Linked DNA regions of Homo sapiens: region 2 is linked to region 1. Evidence: fine-mapped expression QTL. Tissue or cell type: tibial nerve. Region 1 holds a variant in brackets; the other region holds the start of a gene. All regions are shown on one strand. Distances are between the middles of the regions.

What was found. PIP is the estimated chance that this variant, and not a neighbour inherited with it, causes the effect.
Region 2: it holds the start of CRYZL2P-SEC16B, and the variant in region 1 is fine-mapped to the expression of CRYZL2P-SEC16B in tibial nerve (GTEx, PIP above 0.99). The same link has a PIP of 0.9 or more in adrenal gland, aorta, atrial appendage, cerebral cortex, coronary artery and esophagus muscle.

The regions. Positions count from the first base shown.
Region 1 is chr1:177,955,863-177,966,303 of GRCh38, reverse strand. It overlaps CRYZL2P-SEC16B (CRYZL2P-SEC16B readthrough), which reads left to right. Exons shown (of 32, transcript NM_001356506.2): 9 at 299-411; 10 at 1,137-1,257; 11 at 2,025-2,133; 12 at 4,570-4,714; 13 at 5,365-5,513; 14 at 5,901-5,962; 15 at 7,329-7,464; 16 at 7,942-8,172. It overlaps SEC16B (SEC16 homolog B, endoplasmic reticulum export factor), which reads left to right. Exons shown (of 26, transcript NM_033127.4): 3 at 299-411; 4 at 1,137-1,257; 5 at 2,025-2,133; 6 at 4,570-4,714; 7 at 5,365-5,513; 8 at 5,901-5,962; 9 at 7,329-7,464; 10 at 7,942-8,172. Among named protein-coding and RNA genes, the nearest start is that of SEC16B, 9.0 kb to the left of the region's middle. RefSeq lists an enhancer at 6,010-6,511. The variant C/T (reference allele first, on the strand shown) is at 5,499.
Region 2 is chr1:178,031,938-178,042,378 of GRCh38, reverse strand. It overlaps CRYZL2P-SEC16B (CRYZL2P-SEC16B readthrough), which reads left to right and starts at 4,403. Exons shown (of 32, transcript NM_001356506.2): 1 at 4,403-4,482; 2 at 4,578-4,685; 3 at 7,578-7,674; 4 at 9,294-9,352; 5 at 9,884-9,949. It also overlaps the pseudogene CRYZL2P.

The DNA of each region.
Region 1 (10,441 bases):
GGGAGTGAGAGTTTTACTACAAAATAAAAGAGTTTTAAATAAAAAAGAGGTTTTTAGAAAAAGAGTTTTAAGTAAAAAAAATTGTACTATAAAAATTCTACTCCTGTTGTGCAACAAAGGCCTGACTCCTGCTTTGATTCTGTTTACAGGATCTAGAATTAACTGTGGCTTTCAAGCAGATTCTAGGCTGGGGTCACAACTCTGTCCTCTGAACCTGTTTAGTTTGTCAAGTTCTTCATTGGTTTCTCTCTTTACTACCCTTGTCCTCAACTGACCAGTCTTCTTTGTGATATTTTAGGCCAGGTTATGAGAATTCATATCAGAGCTATCAGTCTCCCACAATGAGGGAGGAATATGCTTATGGAAGTTATTACTATCATGGACACCCACAGTGGCTGCAGGAAGAAAGAGGTATGGAAAAGTCTCCAAGAAGCCTCTGGGATTTGGGGATGGGGCAGCTGGTCTGAGAGGCAGGGGAGAGACCAAAGGAGCCATGTTCAGACCCTCACCTTGGGCATCCTTTCTTGGCCAGACGAGACCATAGCAGAAACACTCCTCCTAGATGTCCTGAGAAGAGATATAAAGGAGTTGTTTTCCTTTGTATGCATAGATGATGGTACTGTTACTAGCACTATGGGTAGTTTGTACTTCATCCATGTTTTTTCTCCTACTTTGCCTTATAGCCCAGATTATATAGTCTTTGACCAAGTAACAGTGAAGTCAGTTCTTAAGGACATCTGCTGGGCTATAGTAAGAGTGTATCACTTCACCCTGAGGACAGCAGATATGCACCCAAATGAGTGTTCTACCGTATGCTAATAGGTATAGGGTGTGTCTTAATGGCAGCATCTGAACTGCTAGGAAAGATAAATCTGTTTCAACATTGAACACACACACACACACCAATCCCCATCGTTGTGCGGTTGTATAGATCCATGCTAACTAGTTCAGAGGGGACTGAGAGGCGTCCTATGGACTTTCTTTATTAGCTCTCACCTATCTATTTTTTCAATTTGGAAAATATGTTTTTAGATCTACTGTGCTCCAGGAGCTCCTCACAGCTCACTAATATCTTTCTAAGAACTTTCAGAAACAGGAAGTGACCTGTCTTGATTTTGTTTTCTCTGAGGGTGCAGTGCCAAGGCAACGGAGTCCTTATATCTGGCACGAAGATTACCGAGAGCAAAAGTACCTTGATGAACATCATTATGAAAACCAGCACAGTCCATTTGGAACAAATAGTGAGACCCACTTCCAGTAAGTGTGAAAGGAGAGGCCAGTTTGACATGATGTTGTCAAACTCAGACTATGTCGGGCAAATCTTCTGGCGTCTGATGCTGCCATCTCACCTCCAGAAGCCCATGTACCTTTGTTGTAGCCACAGGGATATGGGAATATCCCAGGATGGGCCTGGCCAGCTGTTAATATGGACCCTGGGAAGGGAGGTTCTTATCACTGACAGTCTGTTCCCAAAGCTGGGCGAGTCTGAGTCCTGTGAGGTTCCTTGAGGTCTGTCCTAAAAGAGGACTTTAATTCTGTGTTGGCCTTAGAACAGATATGGCCTAGCAAAAGTTCTCACGATTAGGTCATGAGAACTTACCTGGTGCTGTGGTGCTTTTCCTCAGCCTACGCCTGAGCCCTGAGAATGGGCCATCTCCCTGTGGTAAGACAAGACAGGGAAGAGAGTTTTGCTCAAGCATCTGTCCTGGTGCTTGCAGCTGTGGAATTCACCAACCTAAACACTCTGATGTAAGTCATTCCAGAATGTCAGGCTGTAGAGACCAACCCTTCTCATCAGGGCCTGAGGCCACTTCCAGCCACTGAGCTGTGGAACTCCAGCACTCCTGTTTTTCTGGGATTAGTAGATTGAGGTGGTGAGTAGGAGGAAAATGCTTTCTCCTATGGCACCCAGGCTGACATGGTACCTGCCCACGCTTTGGAGCAGGTCAGCTTCCGGCGGAGAGTGCCTCAGCCTTGCTGGCTTGCCCAGGACCCCGCTCACTGCTCCTGTCATTTTGCTGCAGATCTAACAGTAGGAACCCTTGTAAAGACAGCCCTGCTTCCAACTCTGGACAGGAGTGGCCGGGGGAGCTGTTTCCAGGGAGCCTGCTTGCTGAGGCCCAGAAAAATAAGGTAACCTAAAGTGACGTGGGGGCTGGAGACTGTGGCCATGTGTCGCAGCTGACACTGTCAGCAGTGGCAGAACAGGGCCCTTGGGGATGGATGTCCAGTGGCCAGCCGTCTGGAGGACCCATTCCTCCCCTCTTGGCAGAACCTCCGCCCATGCCTTCCTTTTTTCCCTCCTTACTGCCTCAGTCTTAGGCATCCGAGGCCCTGAACTGAACTCCTTTGCATTTTTATCAAATTGACAGGATCAAGAAATGTCACCTAGCTCACTCCAACATACTGGGAAAGAGAGGACGCTGTCATCAGGTGTTAGGTGTTAGGGACCCCAGGGGACTAGCAATTTGGTTTAATCCAGGAAGTGGGAAATTGCTAGAATCTTTGAATTCAGGTTTGAGAAGCAGGGCTTGAAACCTTTTCTAACTCTTCATTCATCCCTTTCCTCTAAAAATCTTATTGTATGCGCCAGCTGGGCCACAAAATGGAAATCTTTTTTAAAATAAACTTTTTATTTTAGGATAATTTTAGATTTGTGGAAAATTTGCAAATATACTACAGAGATGGGTTCTTTTCTTTTGAGACAGAGTCTCACTCTGTTGCCCAGGCTGAAGTGCAGTGGTGCAATCTCGGCTTACTGCCACCTTCACCTCCTGGGTTCAAGCGAATCTCCTGCCTCAGCCTCCCGAGTAGCTGGGATTACAGGTGCCTGCCACCATGCCCAGCTAATTTTTGTATTTTTAGTAGAGACCGGGTTTCACCATGTTGGCCAGGCTGGTTTTGAACTCCTGACCTTGTGATCCACCCACCTCGGCCTCCCAAAGTGCTGGGATTACAGGCCTGAGCCACCACGCTCGGCCAGAGATGGGGTTGTAATTTTGAAAGTCTTGTATTAATCTTGTCTCCCTTATTAGGTTTGTATGAGGTCAATTTCTTTTGTATACTTAGTGCTTAATAGAGTAGGGCACATATTATTATGACTAATAGTAACAATACAATGACAGCAGCCACATACATATGTACAGCACCTTACACTGTACAAAGAGCTTTACTTTTTATTTTATTTTATTTTTTTGAGACAGAGTCTCACTGTGTTGCCCAGGCTGGAGTGCTGTGGCACAATCTCGGCTCACTGCAACCTCCGCCTCCCTGGTTCAAGTGATCCTCCTGCCTCGGCCTTCCTAGTAGCTGGGACTACAGGTGTGCACCACCATGCCCAGCTAATTTTTGTATTTTTTAGTAGAGATGGGGTTTCACCATGTTGGCCAGGCTGGTCTGGAAATCCTTACCTCAGGTGATCCTCCTGCGTCGGCCTCCCAAAGTGCTGGGATTACAGGTGTGAGCCACTGCGCTTGGCCCAAAGAGCTTTTGAATCCATTATTTTACTTGTATGCACACAAGATGTAAATTCAATGAATTTCTTTATTTATTTATTTAGAGACAGAGTGTTGCTCTGTCACCCAGGCTGGAGTGTAACAGCATGATCATAGCTCACTGCAGCCTTGAACTCCTGGGCTCAGGTGATCCTTCCACCTCAGCCTCCCAAGTAGCTGGGGCTATAGTTGTGCACCACCATGCCCAGCTAAATTTTTTTATGTTTTGTTTTTTTGTAGAGATGGGGTCTTGCTATGTTGCAATTTGGGGTCTCAAATTCGTGGGCTCAAGTGATCCTCCTGCTTTGGCCTCCCAAAGTGCTGGGATTACAGGTGAGAGCCATCATACCTGGCCCCATGAATTTCTTTACACCTGCATCCAAGGGGAAAGCACAGTACCTGGAGCATAATAGGTGCTCATTAAACAGTCAATGAAGGAGGGCCAGGCATGGTGGCTCACGCCTGTAATCCCAGCACTTTGGGAGGCTGAGGTGGGCAGATCATAATGTCAAGAGATTGAGACCATCCTGGCCAACATGGTGAAACCCCATCTCTACTAAAAATACAAAAATCAGCTGGGCGTGGTGGCGTGCCTGTAGTCCTAGCTACTTGGGAGGCTGAGGCAGAAGAATCGCTTGAACCCAGGAGGTGGAGGTTGCAGTGAGCCGAGATCATGCCACTGCACTCCAGCCTGGTGACAGAGTGAGACTCTGTCTCAAAAAAGAAAATTGTTTATGAATGAATACATGAATTGCTTGAAGTATATAGGGCAGATATGATTATATCACAGATGAAAGCACTGAGCTCAGAGAGCCTAAGTCACGTGTCCAGGGGCACAGCAGCTGAGTATAAGGCAAAGCTGAGATTTCAATTCAAGGGCCCCTGACCCCAAGGCCTGCACTCTTTCCATTGGGTCATAATATATCCTTTGGCAAATGCCTATCAACTTGATTATCTCTTTTTATCCTTTCAACACATCCACTTTCACCGTATGTATTTTGTTTCTTTGAAGGAACGCTTGAGAAGACCAGCTCTCTGAAACTTCTTCCTGTGTGTTTTTGTTTTTAACTTTCAGCCATCATTGGCTAGTGAGTCCAACCTTCTCCAGCAGCGTGAGTCTGGTCTCAGCTCCAGCAGCTATGAGCTCAGTCAGTACATCAGAGATGCCCCGGAGCGGGATGATCCCCCAGCTTCAGCAGCTTGGAGTCCAGTTCAGGCTGGTGGGTTCTAAAATGATCAGAAGAGTTGATTGAATCTGATGTGGAAGGGCTGGGTGGCAAGTCTCTGGGAAAGTCAGCCTTACGATGGATCATTGTCCACCTCATTTGCTTATGTAGGTCACCTGGGCAGAGAGGTCAACTTTGGTTCCATTTTCTCTCTTTTTGCTTGTAATAGTAATTGCATCATAGCTGATTCCTGGAAGGGAACACTGCCCCTATCCATTATCAAGTTGGGAAAGGAGGCACTCAGTGGTGCTTTTAAGAAAGGGAAGACCAGAGAGAATTAGGAAAAGCAAAAGCAAGATGCAAAGCTTCATTGCTTTGTCTGGATGTAGGAACTTTGTCATGAGTATAGAGGCCATGAAAGCCAGAGACTCCTTGGCCTCTCAGCATCACTGAGAGTCTGGGCTGAGAGCATTATCATTTGGACTGAATCATCAAGCCCACGCATTGTATTCTGACACCTTCTCAGAGGCTTAAATCTGACTGGAGCAGGGAACATGGGCTTCTTCTAATTACACAACCCACCCAGAATCTTATTTTGGTTCAGGCAGAATTTGGGCAGAAATACATCTGTGGCATATTCCTAAACTAAAGAAAAGTGATGGAAGTAACGCTAACAATGTCCATCTGTGTCTGTTGGTCAGAAGATGTCTCCTCAGCTGGTCCCAAAGCACCCATGAAGTTCTACATCCCTCATGTTCCTGTGAGTTTCGGGCCAGGAGGTCAGCTGGTGCATGTAGGTCCCAGCTCTCCCACTGACGGGCAAGCAGCCCTTGTTGAA[C/T]TGCACAGCATGGAGGTAAAGAAGACCCAGTGTCCCTGGAATGCTGGCACACTGCTTACCCAACTACTCCTAACATGCTTACCTTGCTTTCCTGTGCCTGAGCCGGGGCATCTCCAGGAATGGGATGCTCTTGCGGGAAACTGGGCCATGTACCCCCTGGATTAGGAGGGTGCAGGAATGGGTGGGGCTCTTCTCTGAAAGAATTGATGCTACAGTTGTGTTTTTCCTGAGATGTCAATGTCTCATCTTTAGCAACAAAATTCACTTTTTTCTTTCTGCTTTCTCCACAAGGCCTTGAGCCATATCCTAGCCCCACGGCCTTGGGGTCTGACACTAGACTTGACTGAAAGGGGCCTAGGGTGGCCACAGTCTTAAACACAAAATCTGATTGTTTTATTCCAGGTTATTCTTAATGATTCCGAAGAGCAAGAGGAGATGAGAAGTTTCTCAGGACCCTTGATTAGGTATAGTGCTGTAAGAGCTGCTGAGTAAGGGCTTTTGAAACCTAGAAAATCTTCCTGCCCAGATCAGCATTTTGGAGATTTGTTCTTGGTTTCCTTGGAAAAAAATATCTGTCCTTGTTGGAGTGGAATTCTCTGTGCTGCAAGATAGAACCAGATGTGGCCTGAGTCATTTTGACAAGCCATTCAATAGTTGAAGGACAGAAAGAAAAATTAGCATGACAGTTTAGAAATCTAAAACCAGTTCCATTATGCAGAGGCTGCATGGTTGGAAGTTTTAGCATTCCGTGTGCTTGATAGATGTTAGTAGAAAAGTGGAGCATCGCCTGGGAAGTCACTGACAAGTGGATCATAGCAGAAACAATTCTTGTAACAGTGGCTTTTTCCTGGAGAGGTAAATAAGATCGGCAGTGTTCAAGTTACAGAACAGTGTGCAAGTGAGCCCTCTGCAGTACTGAACTAGGACTGCTTTTAAATGTCTAGTTATATTTCTGATAAATGTAACTCAGGGCATCTTTGTTGAGGAGAGAGTCCTTGCTGGATGACAGCCCACGTGGGTCTCAGGCTCAGGCGTCTTACTGACTAGGAATACCATGGTGGACAGGTCAGTTAGCCCTCTCTGAACCTTAGTTTTCCCCTTGAGAAATGGTATAACACCTGCTCTCCCTACCCGAGGCTTGTCTATGAGTCTCAAGTCAGATTATGCACATGGAAAGTATCATCACTACTATATAAATGTATTCCTCAAATGGCATTTGACGGTTCCCTCAAGTAAAAATGAGTGTTATCTCTTTCTTACAAACAGGTATACAGATATGGGGCAAAAAAGCGAGTTGGGTATTCAAACACTGGGGTACTAAGCCTAACTTGGCTTTGATGTTATTGGATAATCTTGAGCAAATCATAATGCCAATCATATTGATCACTTAATATATGCCACACAATTTTCTAATTCCTTTTTGTATGGAGGTAGGTCCTTTTACTGTCCCTATTTTAGGGGACAAAGCTGAGGCTCAGAGGAGGTAAGAAACTTGTCTAAACAGAGAAGTGGCAGAGCCAGATTTAGATCCAGGGTTGTCTGACTCCAAAGTCTGCTTTTACTTGCTTTCCTGTGCAGTGACTTCAGGTCTCTGAGCCTCTGTTTCTTCATCTATAAAGGGGGTGCATGAGAGAATCTCTGAAATTTCTTCTTGTTCTATAAGAAAATAACTATCCTATAGCTATAGACTCATTACCTTAGCCCTGGCTTGTCAGATTTCTATCTCAATCACAGCCCAGCCAGCACTTGCACACTTAGGAGGAGCCTGGGGTCCGAAACAGGGAAGTGTCTGCCTGCTCACTCTTTGCTCCCTAAATTTTTTCCATGTAGGGAAGATGTACATAAGGTGGATATTATGACGTTTTGCCAGCAGAAAGCAGCTCAGAGCTGCAAATCTGAGACACTGGGGAGCAGAGACTCAGCTCTACTGTGGCAGCTCTTGGTTCTCCTTTGTCGCCAGAATGGGGTAAGTTCTGTTCTGGTGGGAGAGCAGGTGCAGGCTGAAATTTAAGTCTTCATGGGATAGATAAGATTATGTTTATGACATGATTATGAAAAGCAATATTAAAGAAGCCACAAATTGCCCCAAGGGAAAAAATTGCTCAAATGTCAATGCGAGTTTGCTAACGCAGATCTTCCCTGATGATCTTCTTCCTTGGTCTGGGAAAATTGTACAGTTTCTGGGTTATTGCACCAGCCAGATAATATACCTGTGAAATTGTGAATGTTTCTGGTAAGCTTTATGGCTCCTGACAGGCAGAAAATAACCATGATAGTGATGCTGAAGTCTGAAATATAGCAATCTAACAAAGGACTGCCTTATGTTTGCATAATTGGCTTCCATGTGAAGAAGGCAGGCTCCCTGGTGCCTTCCTTCTCCAGCTGGGGCTGCCAGCCTGAGGACTCATAGGATTCTCCCCAGATGATCCTCTTTGCCTTACAGTCCATGGTGGGGTCTGACATCGCTGAGCTGCTAATGCAAGACTGCAAGAAGCTGGAGAAGTACAAGCGGCAGCCCCCTGTGGCCAACCTCATCAACCTGACCGATGAGGACTGGCCAGTGCTGAGCTCTGGGACCCCGAACCTGCTCACGGGAGAGATCCCCCCCAGTGTGGAGACACCTGCGCAGATCGTGGAGAAATTCACTAGGCTGCTCTACTATGGAAGGAAGAAGGCAAGTATGCCCTTCCCCCATACTTATTTTGAAAAAGCAATCACCATCCCTCTCCACCACTCACCGCTGCTCAAATTATGTGAATAGTATATACTCATTTCAGGGAGGATGCAAGAAGTTCGGAAAGACAGAACAAAGAAAATGAAAACACCCATAGTTCTACCACTAAAAGACAATGAACTATTAAATGAAATAAGCCAGGTACAGAAAAACAAACATCACATGTTCTCACTTATTTGTGGGATCTAAAAATCAAAACAATTGAACTCATGGAGATAGACAGTAGAAGGATGGTTATCAGAGGCTGGGAAGGGCAGTAGGGGAGGGTGGGAGGGAGGGTGGGTGGGTTAATGGGTGCAAAAAAAAGTTAGAATGAATAAGACTTAGTATTTGATAGCACAAAAGGGGAACTATAGTCCATAATAGCTTAATTGTACATTTAAAGATAACTAAAAGAGTATAATTGGGTTGTTTGTAACACAAAGGATAAAGGCTTGAGGGGATGGATGCCCCATTTATCAGGATGTGATTATTATACATTGCATGCCTGTACCAAAATATCTCATATTTTTTACTCCATAAATATATATACCTACTATGTACTCATACAAATTAAAAATAAAAAAGATAATACCTGTTAACATTTTGATACATTTACTTCCAGCATTTTCCCATGCATATATATTAAAAAGAAAATAAAATTGCATATACAGTTGTTTATTTCTCTTTTTAAACTTAAGATGATATGGTAAAATACCCTCATGGCATTATATATACCCCAATAGCGCCATTTAAAAAATAGTTATACAATATTCCATCATATTAATGTATCATATTTTATTTATCTATTCTACTATTATTGAATATTTAGACTATTTATAATTTTGTCAACCACTATAAATTATACCATTTACACATCTTGTTACATAAGTCTTTGCCTGATCTTTTAAATTTTTTAGGGCAGATTCCTAGAAGTGGAATTATTGGGTATATAAAGGGCATGCACTTTTAAAAGGTTCTTTATATATACACCAAATTAATTTCCAGGAAGTTTGTTTACAAATACTCCTGCTGCTATATCTAAGGCTTCCTATCAATATTGAATATAGATGCTCCATGACTTACAATGTTTACATCCCAATAAACCCATCATTAAATAGAAAATATCATAAGTTAAAAATGCATTTGATACACCTAACCCGACATCATAACTTAGCCTAGCCTACCTCAAATGTGCTCAGAATGTTTACCATAACCCACAAAATCATCTAAGCCAGAGTCTGTTTTATAATAAGGTGCTAAATATCTCATATAATTTATTGAATATGCTACTGAAAGTGAAAAACAGAATGGTTGTATGGGCACTTGAATTACAGTTTCTACCGAATGTGTATTGATTTCACAGCATTGTAAAGTCAAAAACTCATAAAGCAGGGACTGTCTGTACTTTAAACAGATGAAGATTGATTTCTAGCTTAATTTTGAAGTTGAGATTATGCTTTACAAAATTCATAAAAATTTAAGTATTTGGATAGATAATTAAAATCAATTTGAATCAATTTAATTCAAAAATTAAAATATAAAAAAGATATACTTGGGAAATGATGCTCCCACCCCCTAGTCACCCAGTTTTCCTCTCAGAAATATCCAGAGAAATTTTATGCATATATTGTTATTTTCTCTTTTCTAAAAAATAGCATGCTGTATACCATTTCTGTACCTTCCCTTTTTGATTTTACAAAATACCTCAGAAAACACTCTATATTAGAGTTGCCGAACTTTTTCTATAATTGGACAGATGTAAAAAATGTAAAATGTAAACATTTTACATTTTGCAAGCCATGGGGTCTCTATTACAACTACTCAGGTCTGCCCTTATAGTGTGAAAGCAGCCACAGAAAATATGTAAATGAATGGAGGTGGCCGTGTTTCAGTAAACTTCATTTTGGATATAGAAATTTGAGTTACCATATAATTATAATGCATAATGAAATTAAAAAAAAATTTTTTCCAATCACTTAAAAAGGTAATAACTATTCTGAGGCTATGGCCAGTACCAAAATAGGCAGTGTGCTGGATTTGGCCTTTAGGCCATATTTTGCTGACCTCTGCTCTATAGCCTATATAAATGCCTTTCTCATTATTTCTTATGTTGGCATAGTTTTCTACTGATAAATTATAATTAATTTAACTAAACCCCCTATAGCTTGACATTAAGAGTACTTCCAATCTTTTGCAATTACAATGTTGCAATGAATAATCACTGTCA
Region 2 (10,441 bases), 76 kb before region 1:
TGGGAGTGGCTGCCGGGTAAGTTGGACAGTCCAATTTCCAGTGGGGTCCCGCACAGATGGGACATGGCATAGGAGGAATCCCAGGCTGCAGGCATTCCTTGGCCCGGTGGCCAGATTTCTGGCACTTGAAGCAAGATCCTGGGGCAGGCAGTCCTGGAGGAATGCCTGGCCGCCGCAGTTTAGGCATTTGGAGTTCTTGTGTGCTGGAGATGTGGCTGGGGTTTGTCTCACGGTGGAGGCAAAGAATTGCAACTCAGAAATACGTTGCTACTTGGCTGCCTCTACTCTATTATTGTACACCTTGAAGGTGAGGTTAATTAGGTCCCGTTGTGGGGTTTGAGGGCCAGAATCTAATTTTTGGAGCTTTTTCTAATGTCGCCAGTGGATTGGGTAATAAAATGCATATTGAGAATAAGACGGCCTTCTGGCCCTTCTGGGTCTAGGGCAGTAAACCGTCTAAGGGTTGTTGCCAAACGGGCCATGAACTGGGTTGAGTTTTTATATTTGATGAAAAAGAGCCTAAACCCTGATTTGGGAGAGGTCGGAAAAAGGAGCATTTACCTTGGCTATGCCTTCAGCTCCAGCCACCTCTTTAAGAGGAAATTGTTGGGCAGGTGGGGGAGGGCTAGTGGAGGAATGTAACTGTAAACTGGACCGGGTGTGAGGAGGGGAGGTGATAAAAGGATTATAGGATCGGGGAGCGGAGGCTGAGGAAGAATTGGGACCTGGCTCAGCCTGGTGAGGAGCAGCCTGGGTAGGAGGGGAGAGGTTAGATGGGTCTGTAGAAAAGGAGCATTCAAAGGACTCAGAGCTTGGGGTGGAGACTGAAGGAACAGACCGCAGAGAAAGAAGAAAGATTTGGGATGAGTCGCATTGGGAGCAGAGACTAAGGAGGGACCAGTGTATGAAACAATGCCTGGATGTCAGGCACATCAGACCCATTTGCCCATTTTTCAACAAAAATCATCCAGGTCTTGTAAAATGGAGAAATCAAAAGTGTCATTTTCTAGCTATTTAGAACCATTATTGAGTTTGTATTGGGGCCAAGCGGTGTTGCAGAAGAAAATAAGACGCTTAGGTTTTAGGTCAGGCGAGAGTTGAAGAGGTTTTAAGTTTTTGAGAACACAGGCTAAGGGAGAAGATGGGGGAATGGAGGGTGGAAGGTTGCCCATAGTAATGGAGGTAAGTTTAAAGAGAAAGGTAGAGACATGGAGAAGGGAGTAGGTGAGCAGCCAAAGCAGGTGTCCCCGCAATTGACTTGCCACCAAAGGAATGTGGGTGAATGACCAAGGCAGGCGTCCCCGCGGTGATCAGACACCAATGGAGTGTGAGTGAATAATCAGGCAGGCGTCCCCGCAGTGATTAAACACCAAGGGAAGACTGTCTTCCCAAGTCCGTGACTGGCGCTGGAGTCTACAGATAAAATGTGTTTCCTTTGTCTCTACTAGAGAGGAAAAAGAACTGGAGTTGGAAGGACTGGGAGATTGAAGGGTAGCGAGAGAGGGAGATTGAAGGGTAGCAAGAGAGGCTGGAGAAGAGAGTGAAAAGACCGCTTACCCAATTTGAAATTCATGAGATGTTCCTTGGGCTGGTTGGTCTGAGGACCCGAGGTTGCAGGTGGATCTCCTCAAGGAGTGAGGGCGAGGACAGGGGAAGGGGACTGGTCTCCCGAAGGAGTCCTCCTGTCCCGGGTTTCAGCACCCAATGTCATGCACGTCCATGTGAGGAGACCACCAAATAGGCTTTGTGTGAGCAACAAGGCTGTTTATTTCACCTGGGTGCAGGCGGGCTAAGTCCGAAAAGAGAGTCAGCAAAGGGTGGTGGGATTATCATTAGTTCTTATAGGTTTTGGGGTAGGCGGTGGAGTTAGGAGCAATGTTTTGCGGGCAGGGGGTGGATCTCACAAAGTACATTCTCAAGGGTGGGGAGAATTACAAAGAACCTTCTTAAGGGTGGGGGAGATCACAAAGTACATTGATCAGTTAGGGTGGGGCAGAAACAAATCACAATGGTGGAATGTCATCAGTTAAGGCTATTTTCACTTCTTTTGTGAATCTTCAGTTGCTTCAGGCCATCTGAATGTATATGTGCAGGTCACAGGGGATATGATGGCTTAGCTTGGGCTCAGAGGCCTGACAATTATCTTGCCCAGGCTGTGAGCTCCTGGCCTCAAGCGATCCACCTCCCTCGGCCTCTCAAAGTGCTGAGATTACAGGTGTGAGCCACTGCACCCAGTTGCTCACTGTTATTTGGCAACCAGAATGTTCACTTTGATGATAACATTAGTATTTCTCCATTATTCCTGGTTTGATTTTATATGTCTAATGATTAACAGTTCACAAAGTGCTTTATTGTCTCATTGGAAACACAAGTTTTTTCAACTTCTCAGCTTCTAGTCATTGTTCTAGTCTTCCTCTTGTGGGAAGGGGGAGAGGACTAAAATGACTTCTCAAATTCCTTGTGAGTGCTATTAAAATAACAGTAAGCTCTGTTGTATATCCAAGGTGAGGACCTTGCTCTTGTACTCCTTTTCCCCAGAGCCTTTAGGCTATAATCTCAGAAGTTCATTCCTACTTCATTTTTGCTCTCCATTTTCCCTTTATTCCATTCCTGATCATGCCTTCCAGGTCATGCTCTATCTGGGAATTCTGTTTCTGTCAAAAAATAGAAGGAATTTAGAACTTAGGGATTATTCTGCCCGATGTGTTCATTTTACAGAGGAGTTCACTGAGACAGAGAGCCAAGAAATGTCAATGTTAAACCCGCAAATAAGTGGGAGAGCTGGGCTTGAACCTGAGACTACTCTTCTGCCAGATGTCTTTTAAAGACATCAGGCTGTCTTTAAAAGTTACCTGTCAAACGAAATATTCTCTCCAACATAATGTGTGCTTCTCTTATATAGCTAGCCTATAAATATTTGGTTACTGTTGCAATAGAGATCTACCCAATTTTATAATATTTCACAGATTATATTGTATATTTTCAATTCTTCCAGAGTGTGCTTATTCGCCTAGTGTGAATGGTCTGTGTTGGTCTTCGAGTCAACAATCATTTATTGAGCATCTACTATGTGCCAAGCATAATACTGGCATTGGGGACATGAGAACCAATGCTCTTCCACTCTCCCCGTGGTGGGTTTTGGTCTGATTTTAACTGGAAGTATTATTTGGATTTGTGTAGGCTCATTCAACATTGGATCATTAGTAACTCTTTGGATTTAGTGTAAATGGTCCTGCAAATGTGAGAAAATTAGTAACAAGAATTGAACTCTAACAAGGTGTTCAAATGCTGACTTTAAAGCCTTCACCTAGGCAGGTGTGGTGGCTCACACTTGTAATCCTAGCACTTTGGAAGGCTGAGGCGGGCAGGGCGCTTGAGGCCAGGAGTTCGAGACCAGCCTGGGCAAAATGATGAAACCCGTCTTTAAAAAAATACAAAAATTAGCCAGATATGGTGGCGCACAACTATAGTACCAGCTACATGGGAGGCTGAGGCGGGAGGATGGTTTGACCCTAAGTGGCGGAGGTTGCAGTGAGCCGAAATAGTGCCACTACACTCCAGCCTGGGTGACAGAGAAGGACACTGTCTCAAAAATAAATACATAAATAAAGCCTTTACCTGTGCATTTAGGATTTTTTGCACTGGCAGAGGACCCAATAACCTTTATCTATGTATCATCTGTCTGTCTGTCTATCTATCTAATCGATAGAGAAGGTCTCACTCTGTCACTCAGGGTGGTGCGATCATAGTTCACCGCAGCCTCCAACTCCTGCACTCAAGCGACCCTCCCGCCTCAGCCTCCTGAGTAGCTGAGACCACAGACACTGGCCACCACCCGCCTTGGCCTCCAAAAGTGCTGGGATTACAGGCGTTAACCACCCAGCCAAGAACCACTATTTAAATGTCGCCAAGTGTGGTTTAAAAAGTTTCCCAATTTTGAGGGGGGCAAGGGTTGAAAAACTATTAGGTACTATGTTCAGCACCGAAGTGACGAGATGATTCGTACCCTGAACCTTAGCATCACACAATATACCCAGGTCACATCTGCACATGTAGCCCCTGAATCTAAAATAAAAGTTGAAACTACAAAAAAAAAAAGTCTCCCAAATTTGTTATAAAAATGCCAAAGAAGGTTAATCTCGGGTAATCGAATTCCGTTTCCTGGTGTTTTCCTTTATTCTTTTTTTCTTCCAGCCGGCTCCACCTCCAGAGAGGCCCAACAGGGAGCTCGCGCGGTCGTTTGGTCTCGGCGGCCGTAGAAGCCGGGCGCACTGGACCGGAGCTGCCCCGCCGGGGTTGGGTCGTGGCTGCCAGGGCGCGTCGCCAGGAGGCCTCGCGGGCCGCCCTTCCGCTCTCCCGGGGCTGGGCGGCGCTGTCCGGCTCTTCCTGCCGCGCTCTGGCCACTCCCCCTCGCCCCTCGCTGGGCTTGGCCTTGGCGGCCGTGCTCTGCAGGCAGTGCCTCCCTCGGGCGTGGGTCTGCAGGTGCAACCCCGACTCCTCCCTGAGCCCCGCAAGGCAGTCCCAGGGTGCTCCCGGCGGGGCTGCCCGACTGACCCTTCCCTTGTTTTGTGTTGCAGGAGAGCCGGACAGGGCAGCGGCCGGCACTACCGCGCTGCGATTTGCGCAGAGCTGAAGAAGCCCCTGACCATTGAAGAGGTGGCCCCCGCCCCGTCGGGCCTCACGAGGTAGGGGGCTGGCTTATCCCCTTCTACCCTCCCCTTCTCCCCGCCACCACACACTCCCCGCAGGCTTCCTTCTTGAATCAAGTTCCCAGTTCTGAAGCGAGGGGGCGACCGAGAGAGTGGAGGGCAACTTCGTCCTGGGATAGCTAGGGGGCTGAAGCCCTTTCCAAGGTCTAAAGTGCTAAAGGAAGATTGTTCCCCCAAAACACGCCTATAGGCCTCTTTCTCAATGCTCAGAGCTGTTGCCTTAGAAACAGAGAATTCTGATTTGCACACGACTTTGTATGTGCAAGTTATTGGTTTAACACAGGTACATGGACCTCATCCTTTGCTTCCTTCCACCTCAGTGCCGGAATCGAATTATTCGGCCTCTGCCTCCCTGAAACCAGCCCGGTAACCTCCGTGTTTCCATGTGAACATACGCCTCTGGTATATTGCAGACATTTGGGATGGGGTTCGTTTAGGGATGTGGGCAGCTGGTCCACTGAAATGTGGACATCATTTTGGCCTTGCCTATTGACCACTCTAGTAACACAGTGTCATCTGGTGTGGAGATGAGAACCTCAGACAGCGTGAAGCAGATAGTGGGCCTCAGTGTTGGAGACCTTCAGGGAGAGGGAGAAAGGCAGCCATAGCCCTGAAGTGTTACCAGCATGGAGCCTGTTAACTAACATGGCTAACACGGATTATTTGAATGAGCACATGATGGCAGCCAATCTACTTCCTGGGATTCACATGCTGAACGACATTCATCCTCAAATCATCCTTAAATCTAGGTGGAGTGGCTGGAGAACACATGTGTGCCCTGTGCATGCCTGTCAATAACTGATGTGTCCTGCATGGAATGTGTCCAGGCTGAGGGCTAGGCTCCTTTGTTCTGTTATTTGTCCTAGACATTGCATTGTAAGGAATTAGCCCATGAGAGCTGTGACTATGTTTGTTTTACTCACTACTAAATCCCTTAAGTCTAAAATGGTTCCTGGCATGTGGCAGAGGCTTAAAAAATTGTTGAATGAATGAATTTTGTAGATAAAAATTTCTTCTCACCAATATGGCCACCTCTGTACAAACAAATCAATATCATCCCTTTGGTGTCTCAGCTTTCATTTCTTCCAGTAATTCCAACCCCTGTTGGGATGTGTTGGTTTATGACAGTGGTTGTCTAGCACAGCGGTCCGCAACCTTTTTGGCACCAGTTCTGTGGAAGACAGTTTTTCCATGGACTGATGGGGGTTGGAGGGGATGGTTTTGGAATGAAACTGTTCCACCGCAGATCCTCAGGCATTAGATTCTCATAAGGAGTGCGCAACCTGGATCCCTTGCCTGTGTAGTTCACAATACGGTTCGCACTTCTGTGAGAATCTGATGCCGCCACTGATCTGACGGGAGGCAGAGCTGGGCGGTATGCTTGCTTTGTCTGCTCACCTCTTGCTGTGCAGCTGGATTCCTGACAGCATACCGGTCTGTGGCCCCGGGGTTGGGAACCCCTGGTCTTGAGGCTTGTTAAAACAGAACGCTAGGCTTTGTCTTCAGAGCTTCTGATTCAGTAGGTCTGGGATGGGGCTTGATAATTTGAATTTCTTTTCTTTTTTTTTTTTTTTTTTGAGATAGGGTCTCACTCTGTCACTCAGGCTGGAGTGCAGTGGCATGATCATGGCTCACTGCAACCTTGACCTCCCAGGCTCAAGCAGTTCTCCCACCCCAGTCTCCCAAGTAGCTGAGACCACAGGCACATGCCACCATTCCTGGCTAATTTTTTAATTTTTATTTTTGTAGAGATGGTTGCCCAGGCTAGTCTCGAACTCCTGGGCTCAAGTGATTCTCCTGCTTTGGCCTCCTGAAGTGCTGGGATTACAGGCATGAGCCATTGTGCCTGGCCTGTGCCAGGTGATACTGATGCTGGTGGTCTGGGGCCACATTTTGAGAACCGTGGGCTTACAAGGCCTAGAGAAACTACTGGCTACACTGCTGTAGGTCTGCCTCAGCTATGGCACTATCACAAAACATAGAGGCTGGGGATCTGGGACTAGGGTAAAGGATTCCAGATTCCCCAAAGAGCTGATCATTTTACCCTTCTGTTTAAAACTCATTAATGACTTCCCATTGTTCCTAGTATGAAAATTAAGATCTTCAGTAAGGAGGCCGGATGCAGTGGCTCACGCCTGTAATCCCAGCACTTTGGGAGGCTGAGGCAGGCGGATCACGAGGTCAGGAGTTCAAGACCAGCCTGGCTAATATGGTGAAACCCTGTCTCTACTAAAAATACAAAAAAAATTAGCTGGGTGTGGTGGTGCATGCCTGTAATCCCAGCTATTTGGGAGGCTGAGGCAGGAGAATTGCTTGAACCGGGGAGGCAGAGGTTGCAGTGAGCTGAGATCATGCCACTGCACTCCACCCTGGGCAACAGTGTGAGAGTCCGTCTTAAAAAAAAAAAAATCCTCAGTAAGGCTTCAAACTCTCTTGTGTCCCCACTGTAGTGTCTTTGTACACGCCATTGCTTTTGTCTGTGCCAAGGCTTTTGCCTCCTATTTTGAATAGTTAACTCTCAGTTGTTAGTTCAAAGTGTTGCTTACTTAGGAATGCTTTTCCTGACTTCCCTAAGTGGTCAAATCCTTCCATTATGTGCTTTCATAGCACCATATATTTTTTATCATTAATGCTTGGTACTGGAGTTATAACTTAATATATGTATCTTCATTATTATCTGGTTAATATCTGTTTTCCCTCCTATACTTTAGCTTCATGAAGGCAGAGGCCTTGCCCATGAGTGTGTGCCAGCTGTTACTTTAGTACCTGGCATGTTGTTGTCATTCAGTAACTATTTTGGTATGATTGAATAAACATTGTCTCCGTGGATGTGTACTGTTCTGCTTTGCTGCTCTATTTCTTTTGTAGGTCAGAGTTGATGTCCATTTCTGTGGAGTTAACTTTGGTGATATTTTGATCTGCCGTGATCAATATCAGGAAAGGCCCCATCTTCCCTTCACACCTGGTGAGTATAGGGAGACCAAGTGACTGCTTCAGGAAAAAAAGATACAGGGAGTTTTCAGAATCATGCCCCTGGGCTCAGGCAGTGCTCTGTTGGTGTCTGCCTGCCATCGGTGATGTTTCAGTTATATGTGTCCATCTCACTGTGTATTGGGATCACTGGATTGTGAGCCCCATGAGGGCAAAGTCTATGCCTGTCTTGATCAACATTATATCCCCCAGCTTAGCATTGTACGTGGCTCTTAGTAGGTGCTCAATAAATACTCTAAAAATGAAGAAATGAACAAATGAATTTTCACCAGAATTATCATTGGTCCTAGCCATTCATTCCCTTTCCTTGCTGGATATTGCCCCAGTTTTGTTTCTTCACTGAAGGATCACAGACATCTGTTTGCAGCTAAAACTTTCAGCCTCACAGACACATTCCCAATAAAACCTAATGCCAGGCCGGGCATGGTGGCTCACGCCTGTAATCCTAGCACTTTGTGAGGCTGAGGCGGGCGGATTGCCTGAGCCTAGGAGTTCAAGACCAGCCTGGGCAACAATGGTGAAACCCTGTCTCTACCAAAATACAAAAATTAGCCGGACGTGGCGGTGTGCGCCTGTAGTCCCAGCTACTCGGGAGGCTGAGGCAGGAAAATTGCTTGAACCTAGAAGGCGGAGGTTGCAGTGAGCCAAGATCATGCCACTGCACTCCAGCCTGGGCAACAGAGTGAGACTCCGTCTCAAAAACAAAACAAACAAACAAACAAACAAAACCTAATGCCAAAGGATCAGAGAGAAGAAGAGTGTGGATTTCTTAGCAGCCCTCTGCCTGATTTTTGTTCCCAGTCTACCCCTAGATCCTGCACATGTGGACAAGTGACTGATTTTTGTTGTTGAAATTTATTTAAAGGGATGTAAGTATAGCTTAGCATGTATATAGTACATGTACATTTTATACAGATATATATCATGAAAGATAGAGTGATTGCAAATAGTTACCGTGTTTTGTTTTCAGGGTGTTTGATTGTATCTCGACAGTTAGAACCATTTCCTTCTGTTTATATTTGCTGAAATACTGGTTGGGGGGAAGATGTCATACACAATTGAGTTATTCCCCTGGCAGCTCAAGTAGGAAACATCATCATTAATTCAGAAATTTCAGAGGTGAAAAAGGAAAGGGCAGACAGCACCAGTTCATCCAGTTGAGCCAAGTACTGTCTGAATAAACACAGTTCATGTCCTTGAGGGCCCTACAGGCCAGCAGAAGAGACTTGAAAACAGATAAATAAATAGGATGAACATTGTCACTGGGGTGCTATAGGAGGTCCCAGTGATTAGGGTCAAAAGTACCTGTGTACCTGTGATTCTCTGTGCTTTTGCACATTCTTGAAATTTTCATTTGTGTCATGGTAAGATTGAGACTGCTATAGCTTCCCAGGTTGTGATGGTGAAATCTTATGTTTACTTTCCTGTGCTTTGAGTATAACACCTTACCTCTCTACCTGCATATGGAGAGGAGGAGGGGCACCTAAATCCTCAGCTCCGAAAGCTGTTGGAATAGCCTGTCGATCAGTGTTTTCTCATCTCCATGGTGTTGTGTTTTACAGATAACCTAATCTTTAAACAATATGTTTTTAGGAATGGACTTTTCTGGGACAGTATTGGAGACAGGCACAGATGTCAGGACAGTTAAAGAGGTAAATTAATTGAAGTCTAGGGAATCAATGTATATGTAGCTATGAAAAATATGCTAACTTCATTTGTAGCCAAAGGGTCTTGCTTCTACTGGCTTTTGCCTGCAGACACCAAAGGGAAACCTAACTAGAAAGGTAAGAAACAAAATTCTTTCTGGGGAAAGGAAGTAATTGGAAGTTCCTGGCTTCATTAAACTTTTCATTATGAATAAAAGGCGGCACCTCAGTCTTTAACCAAGAGGACAGAGAATTTGATTCTCTTGTGAAATTAAGAGTGGGCTTCTAATTCAAATCAACCTTTCCCTTACTCTCTCTCTTCGTCTCAAATGTGCTCACTCAAATTGGCTTCACAGCCTGGTGGTGGTATTGAGAGAGTTATTATTTTATTTACTAAACAGTAACTCTGAATAATTAAGACCAACCTGTGTCTTATGGAGTCAGAGATGTGCATTTTTTTTTCTTTTTTGATTAATTCAGGAAAAGGAATGCAAGGTCATACATTTGCACATATCCTTAATGGTATGTTTCCTTTAGGGAGATAGAGTTATTGGCACAAGAAACTTTAATTGTATGGCTGAAGAATGCGTCACTGACCAGAAGGTATCTGTACCACTCAAGATTAATGGTTGAAGATGTTTTTTCTCCTTTGTTTTTCTTTAATTTCCACCTATCCCTCATTCCTGTCTTCCCCTCTCCCTCTTTTTCTTTGTATTTATTTGGTCATGTCTTGTTTCTCAGCTAAGCACTTCATTTTTTCAAATGTTAAACTCCTTCTCTTCATTAATGTGACAACACTTTGCACAGAGCTTTGTTTGCATTGAGTGTTTTAATGAAGAACAACATTTTGTTTTCTGAGTCCTTGAGCTGGCTGTTCATTTGGACTAGGTAGTTTTAGTAGAAAAGCTGGTTTTGGGCATTGAGCTGGATGTAATGGGCTTCTCCCAGACACAAAGCTTATGAAAGAGATAGCCCTGGGAATGGAGCCAGCCAGGGTAGTCTAGCATGGTTGTGCAGGGTGTGAATGGTGCCCCCTGGTGGTGGACAGTACACAATTGTCCCCACCAGCTTTACTGAGGTAAAACTGACATACCA